Linked DNA regions of Homo sapiens. The protein of the gene in region 1 interacts with the protein of each later gene in a pairwise test. Each region holds a gene or a part of one and is shown on either strand. Other genes may lie near its edges.

Region 1 (3,652 bases):
AGATGAACCAACCCTTGCTCTTAAGGTCCAGAAAGTCGTAACTCAGAGTCCAAAATATAGGTAATTCATAATTAAGAGAAAAGCAAACTTTTATAACACACCACTGTACTGATACTGTCTCTAATATAATAATCATGAATATTCATTGAGCTCTTGCTATATGCCAGATACTGCTCCTAAAAGCTCTTTGAAGATGCTCTCGCTTAATCTTCACAGCAGGTCTATGCCAAAACACTCTTATCCCCATTTTATAGATGAGAGGCTATGAGAACTGCCTAGATATAGCAGAGCTGGGATTTGAACTCAGGAAGCTCACTCTAGAGCCTATGCTCTTAATGATAAGTTAATGGATCATGAGGCGCATTGCCACACCCATCTAGACTTGGGACTTGGTTTTCTCTGTGTATAATTCTGCTTTTGTACACTTTAGCAATGAATCTGATTTTGAAACAGTTACTACACAAGATCCATCTAGTTTCATACTCTGTGTCTTCAATTTTATTAAATCCCAAACTAAACATAAAATTACATGTGGGTACCACTGAAACCTGTACCCAGGAAGGTTCAAAATGATGCATCTTTTCAACGTTTTCATAAAGCAAACATGAAACACTAAGTGATTAACAGAGAGACTATATACAGTGTGACCAACAGGTATTTATTTATCTGAGCCATCATGCTTACTACCTGGGGCCACTGAGGGAACTGTATCTTTGAAAAAAACCCTAACTAGATTCAAAGTTCTCACTTTGCAGTAGCAAGATACAACCTTTCTTTTAGAATCAGGGCCAAGGCACTCTTTAACTTTTCTAAACTCCTATGAAAATAGTCATTTCACAGATGCTTTTCCTTTTTCAAATAGCCTCTTGTTTTCTTAAAGGACAGACTACAGAGGAGGAAAAGGGCAGCCACATATTGTATACATGATTGATTGTACAAAAAGAAGTTACTAAACAGCTGGAGGGGGCGATTCAGTAGTAAAGGAAAATAGAAAGTAGTCAGTCTCTAGGTTAGCCATTGCATTTTATTGTATAAATAGCATTCTAACTTGGAAAGGATGCCCCTGAGGTAGAAATGAGTCTATTTTTCTAGGCTCCCCAAAGTGCAGTCTACGATCCAAAGATAATTGCATCATGATTTAGTCATAAAACACACACCACTGTGATGACTATGTATTTAACACACAGCAAGTCAACAGACAACTATACCCTTTTTATACATGTACTATGGCATGGCATACTAAGATGTCACAAGATATTTGCTCTCGTTTTCTCTTTTCTTTCAACTGTTGGTATTTGTGTTTATTTTATATATATACACATACACATGTATATACTATATAAAACATACATAATAAACACTAACTTTATCATTACAAGTGAAACATACAATGTTTAATTTAGACTGATCATGATTATTTTAAACACTAACAGTATGTTTCACAGGAAGGATGAAATCAAAAGAAATACAATGCTAAAAAACTGCTTATTTTATTTCATTCACCAATCTATGTATTACCTGAAACCTGAAGTGTGATTAAAGCAAAGTGATTTCATTTCATGGGGATCCACAGCAGACTCTGAGGCAATTCCAAAAGAGGACTCCCAAAATTATGACTATTAATATTGAGACAGTGCAACATGCTGAAGCAGGTGCAGAGATCCCAAGTGAACATTTTGAAGGCTGGCATAGGTTTGGCTTCTAGTATATTTTTTAAAAACACAATCTCATTGCTTTTCGGTCACAGCTAATACATTTTTTCGAGCATATTTGATTTGAAATACCTATCCTCAGCAACTTATCAAGGGCCACCATCATCCTGTCAAAACCAACTTTCAGAGAGAAAACTAAGCATATCTTCTTAACATGTAAAAAAAACTCTAATCCAGTTCTCATCACAGGCCAAGCACTGTAAGATGTTCTGTGGAAACCCAACAGCAAGTAATGTCAGGACACTGAGCAAATGAGTGGTAAGTGTCACAGCAGAGGGGCCCCTGAAAGTCTTCCTGGAAAGAGGGAGTTAACGTGTACATTTCAAGAGTCCCAGTAGGTAGACTGGAGTGCACAAACTTTGCCCTCTCCACAGGCCCCTACTGACACCAGCACTCAATAAGCCAAGGGGCTATGGACAGAAATACCTAAATACTCATCAGCAGGGAACTTGCTAAATAAATCGTGGAACTTGTATATAGTGGAATAGTATACATAATACTTAAAAAGACTGACGTAGAAAAATGGACTGATCTACAAAATACGTTCTTACGTGAAAAAAAGCAAAGCATTCATAAAACAATCTAATTGGAGTAACTTTTTCCTGGTTTTAACTATTTATTGTGGCAAATTTTAAACATACAAAATTAGAGAATAGAATAATGAACCCGCACGTACCCATAATGCAGCTTTAACAATCAGCAGCTTATGGGCAATTTTGTTTCTTTTTTTATCCTTCTAATCCCAATTATTTTGGAGAAAATACCATACACAATATTGTTTCCATCAGTATGTGTTATACTGTATTATATATGTTATACTATGACATAGATTAGTATTTTATATTAGTATATATCTCTAAAACATAGGGATTCTAAAAACATCATCACAACATTTGGGTAAATTTTAAAATTGATTATTATTGTTTTTTTTTTTAATTTTAATTTAATTTAATTTTATTTTTAAATTTCTTTTGAGATGGAGTCTCGCTCTGTTGCCCAGGCTGGAGTGCAGTGGCACAATCTCGGTTCACTGCAACCTCTGTCTCCCAGGTTCAAGCAATTCTTCTGCCTCAGCCTCCCGAGTAGCTGGGACTACAGGCACGCACCACCACACCAAGCTAATTTTTGTACTTTTAGTAGAGACAGGGTTTCACGATATTGGTCAGGCTGGCCTTGAACTCCTGACCTGGTGATCCACTGCGCCTGGCCTAATTTTTATTTTTTGAGATGGAGTCTCGCCTGTCACCCAGGCTAGAGTGCAGTGGCGGGATCTTGGCTCACTGCAACTTCCGCCTCATAGGTTCAAGCAATTCTTGTGCCTCAGCCTCCCAGGTAGCTGGGACTACAGCCACCCGCCACCATGCCTGGCTAATTTTTAATGTTTTAGTAGAGAAGGGGTTTCACCATGTTGCCCAGGCTGGTCTCAAATTCCTGAGCTCAGGCCATCTCTCCACCTTGGCCTTCCAAAGTGCTGGGATTACAGGCGTGAGCCATCATGCCGGTCTTAAAATTTATTATTAATATGCGGATCTATGACTCAAACATTTTCTGAGAGGAAATAAAAACATAAGGTAATGGTCATCACTGGGAAAGGGGGCTGGGGTGAAGGGAAGAGGCAGCTTAATTATTCATTTAAAAATACATTTATGTTTTTTGAAACAGAGTCTCGCTCGATCACCCAGGCTACAGGGCAATGGCATAATCATGGTTAACTGCAGCCTCGAACTCCTGGTGTCAAGTGATCCTCCTGCCTCAGCCTCCTGAGTAGCTGGAACTACAGGCACATGCCACCGTCCACCATGCCCAACTAATTTTTTTGGAGGAGGAGAGATGGGGTCTTACTGGTCTTGAACTTGTGGGCTCAGGTGATCCTCTTGCCTCAGCCTCCCAAAGTGCTGGGATTACAGGCATGAGCCACTGTGCCTGAACAAAACTTTAGG
Region 2 (3,652 bases), on another chromosome or scaffold:
GGGCTGACCTTCTTACAGCTCACGGGCTCATTGGATCTTTCCCTCTTCGATGTTGGTCAGGATCCTGCTGCCTCAGCAGAAACGGACTTTCTCCAGAGTTTCCGACTATACCTGATCAGGGGCCTGAGCAGGCCCAGGCGTGGGATTTGTGCTGGAGCCTCTGAGTTCAGATGGTGGCCGAGGCCTGGGTCCTGCTTTGGGCTCTGAGCTTTCTTTGCTTGTCAGAAGAGGAGGTCAGGAGCTCTAATCAGGAGGCCGGGGATGCCCAGAGGGATACTGGCTGAGTGTGGAGTTGCTGTCTCCCCTCCCACGCTGGCCACTCTGGACCATAAAACTTCTTCCTCACTAGGGGTTCTGGACATGGACTCGGGACAAGAGGAGCTGCTGCAGCGGTGCACCCCTCAAACCACACCCCACCCAGCACTGCCACAACCCTAAGCCAGTAGCATCGTCAGAGTCAGGCAGGCCCGGCTGACAGCAGGGGGCAAAGACTTCAGCAGAGCTCAGGACACTTTGGCCTGTTTTTGAACGTGGGAAACCTGATGCAGCCAGCCAGCATCAGGGGAGGACTTTAAAGAGAGAGGGGTGCTCATATGTGGGTTTGGGAAAACTGGAGCCAGGGGTTACCAAGTGTTGGCTGTGGACTCTACATCTCTGATATCATTTAGTCTCACAGCTACCCACCTTATGAAGTAGGTACTGTTACCCTCATTTCTCAGAAGAGACTCAGGGAGGGTTAGGACTCACCCACGTCCACACAGCCAGGAAGTTGTGGATCAGGGACCTGAACCAGGGCTACCTTGTTAATTCGCTTGACCTTAGTCTCTGACCACCCTTCCTCCTATTACTGTACCGTGGCCCAGCAAGAAGGTGAGCATGGGCATGAGGTCACTTGTATGGGACTTGGCATCACTCTGGCGACCCAGGTGACACTTATTGGGGTTGTCCATTTATTTCATTCTCATCTCTACTATTGCTTTTTTTTTTTTTTTTTTTTTTTTGAGACGGAGTCTCACTCTGTCGCCCAGGCTGGAGTGCAGTGGTGTGATCTCGGCTCACTGCAAGCTGTGCCTCCCAGGTTCACGCCATTTTCCTGCCTCAGCCTCCCAAGTAGCTGGGACTACTGGCGCCTGCCACCACGCTTGGCTAATTTTTTTATATTTTTAGTAGAGATGGCATTTCACCGTGTTAGCCAGGATGGTCTCGATCTTCTGACATCGTGATTCACCAGCCTCAGCCTCCCAAAGTGCTGGGATTACAGGTGTGAGCCACCGTGCCCAGCCTACCATTGCCTTTTTTTTTTTTTTTTGAGACGGAATCTCACTCTGTCTCCCCAGCTGGAGTGCAGTGGCACGATCTTGGCTCACAGCAACCTCTACCTCCCTGGTTCAAGCGATTTTCCTGCCTCAGCCTCCTGATTAGCTGGGACTACAGGTGTGAGCCAACACGCCCAGCTAATTTTTGTATTTTTAGTAGAGACAGGGTTTCATCATGTTGGTCAGGCTGGTCTCAAACTCCTGACCTCAAGTGATCCACCCACCTTGGCCTCCCAAATAGCTGGGATTACAGGCGTGAGCCACCGCATCCAGCCCATGCCTCTTTTCTCCTTTCCTCTGTCAAACAGCTCCCTTCTTTAGAGATTCACTCCTAAAACTGCCTCCACTTTTTTTTTTTTTTTTTGAGACAGAGTCTGGCTCTGTCACCCAGGCTGGAGTGCAATGGTGTGATCCAGCTCACTGCAACCTCCACTTCCCAGGTTCAAGCGATTCTCCTGCCTCAGCCTCCTGAGTAGCTGGGACTGTAGGCGCATGCCACCACGCCCAGCTAATTTTTGTATTTTTAGTAGAAATGGGATTTCACCATTTTGGCCAGGATGGTTTTGATTTCTTGAGCTCATGATCCGCCCACCTCGGCCTCCCAAAGTGCTGGGATTACAGGCGTGAGCCACCGCACCCGGCCAACTGCCTCCACTTTTTATGTCTGTACTTGTTGGTGTAAGATAGGAAATCAGGGATCTGCTTGTGGCTAGAAACAACTTCCTGTCTCAGTGGAAAAGCTCTACCAGCCGACAGGACCCTGAGCTAGGAAAGCTCTGGGGTCAGGCACACATCTGGGTGCTGCTTTCACTAAAGGGGTTTTCAACTGAAGGGTCTGTGCCACAGTTTGAACCTTGTCCCTTGTTCCTGTCCCCGTACAGTCCTGTACAGTCCCTATAAGGGCAGAATTGTGCTTCCCTCCCCAATTCCTATGTTGAAGCCCTAACCCCAGTACCTTAGAGTGTGTCTGTATTTGGACATAGGGCCTTTAAAGAAGGGATTAAGTTAAAATGAGGCTGTTAGGGTGGGTCCCAATCCAATCTGCCTGATATGCTTATAAGAAGGGGAGATTAGGGGCTCATGCCTGTAATCCCAGCACTTTGGGAGGCCAAGGCGGGCGGATCACCTGAGGTCAGGAGTTCGAGACCAGCCTGGCCAACATGGTAAAACCCCTGTCTACTAAAAATGCAAAAATTAGCCAGGTGTGGTGGCACACGCCTGTAATCCCAGCTACTTGGGAGACTGAGGCAAGAGAATCACTTGAACCTGGGAGGCAGAGATTGCAGTGAGCCGTGATCACGCCATTGTGCTCTAGCCAGAGCAACAGCAAGACTCTTGTCTCAAAAAAAAAGAAAAAGGAAAAATTAAAAATATGGTCAGGTGTAGTGGTTCACACCTGTAATCCTAGCACTTTGGAAGGCCGAGGCAGGAGGATTGTTTGAGGCCAAGAGTTCAAGACCAATCTGGCCAACATAGCGAGACCCCTGTCTCTATATTTTATTCTAATAATAAATAATTTTTTTGGAAAATTAAAAATATAATTACTACATAATATAGCAATTTCCCTTCTAGGTATACACTCAAAAGAATTGAAAATACACTCTCCAGCCGGGTGCAGTGACTCACACCTGTAATCCCAGTGCTTTGGGAGGCTGAGGCCAGTGGATCACGAGGTCAGGAGATTGAGACCATCCTGGCTAACACAGTGAAACCCCGTCTCTACTAAAAATACAAAAAATTAGCCAGACGTGGTGGTGGGCGCCTGTAGTCCCAGCTACTCGGGAGGCTGAGGTAGGAGAATGGCATGAACCCGGGAGGCGGAGCTTGCAGTGAGCTGAGATCGCGCCACTGCACTCTAGCCTGGGTGACAGAGTGAGACTCCGTCTCAAAAAAGAAAAAGAAAAAGAAAATACACTCTCCAGGAGGTATTTGCACACTCATGTTCATTGCAGCATTATTCACAACTGCCAAGAGGTGGAAGCAACCTACATGTTCATCAACAGATGAATGGATAAAGAAATTTGGTGGCCGGGCACAGTGGCTCACGCCTGTAGTCCCAGCACTTTGGGAGGCTGAGGCAGGCAGATCACAAGGTCAAGAAATTGAGACTATCCTGGCCAACATGGTGAAACCCCGTCTCTATTAAAAATACAAAAATTAGCTGGGCGTGGTGGCGTGTGCCTGTAGTCCCAGCTACTTGGGAGGCTGAGGCAGGAGAATCACTTGAATACGGGAGGCGGAGGTTGCAGTGAGCCGAGATCGCGCCACTGCACTCCAGCCTGGCAACAGAGTGAGACTCCGTCTCAAAAAAAAAAAAAAGAAGAAAGAAATTTGGT

Evidence for each region. Proteins that work in one complex are often made in the same cells at the same time.
Region 2: the proteins of APBB2 (region 1) and MEOX1 interact in binary tests that used the Homo sapiens proteins (3 or more experiments, as listed by UniProt).

Annotation. Positions count from the first base shown.
Region 1 is NC_000004.12:41,008,514-41,012,165, forward strand, and holds part of APBB2 (amyloid beta precursor protein binding family B member 2), read right to left. Parts: intron 1-3,652. UniProt on the Homo sapiens protein: Plays a role in the maintenance of lens transparency, and may also play a role in muscle cell strength. Involved in hippocampal neurite branching and neuromuscular junction formation, as a result plays a role in spatial memory functioning.
Region 2 is NC_000017.11:43,651,849-43,655,500, forward strand, and holds part of MEOX1 (homeobox protein MOX-1), read right to left. Parts: intron 1-3,652. UniProt on the Homo sapiens protein: Mesodermal transcription factor that plays a key role in somitogenesis and is specifically required for sclerotome development. Required for maintenance of the sclerotome polarity and formation of the cranio-cervical joints.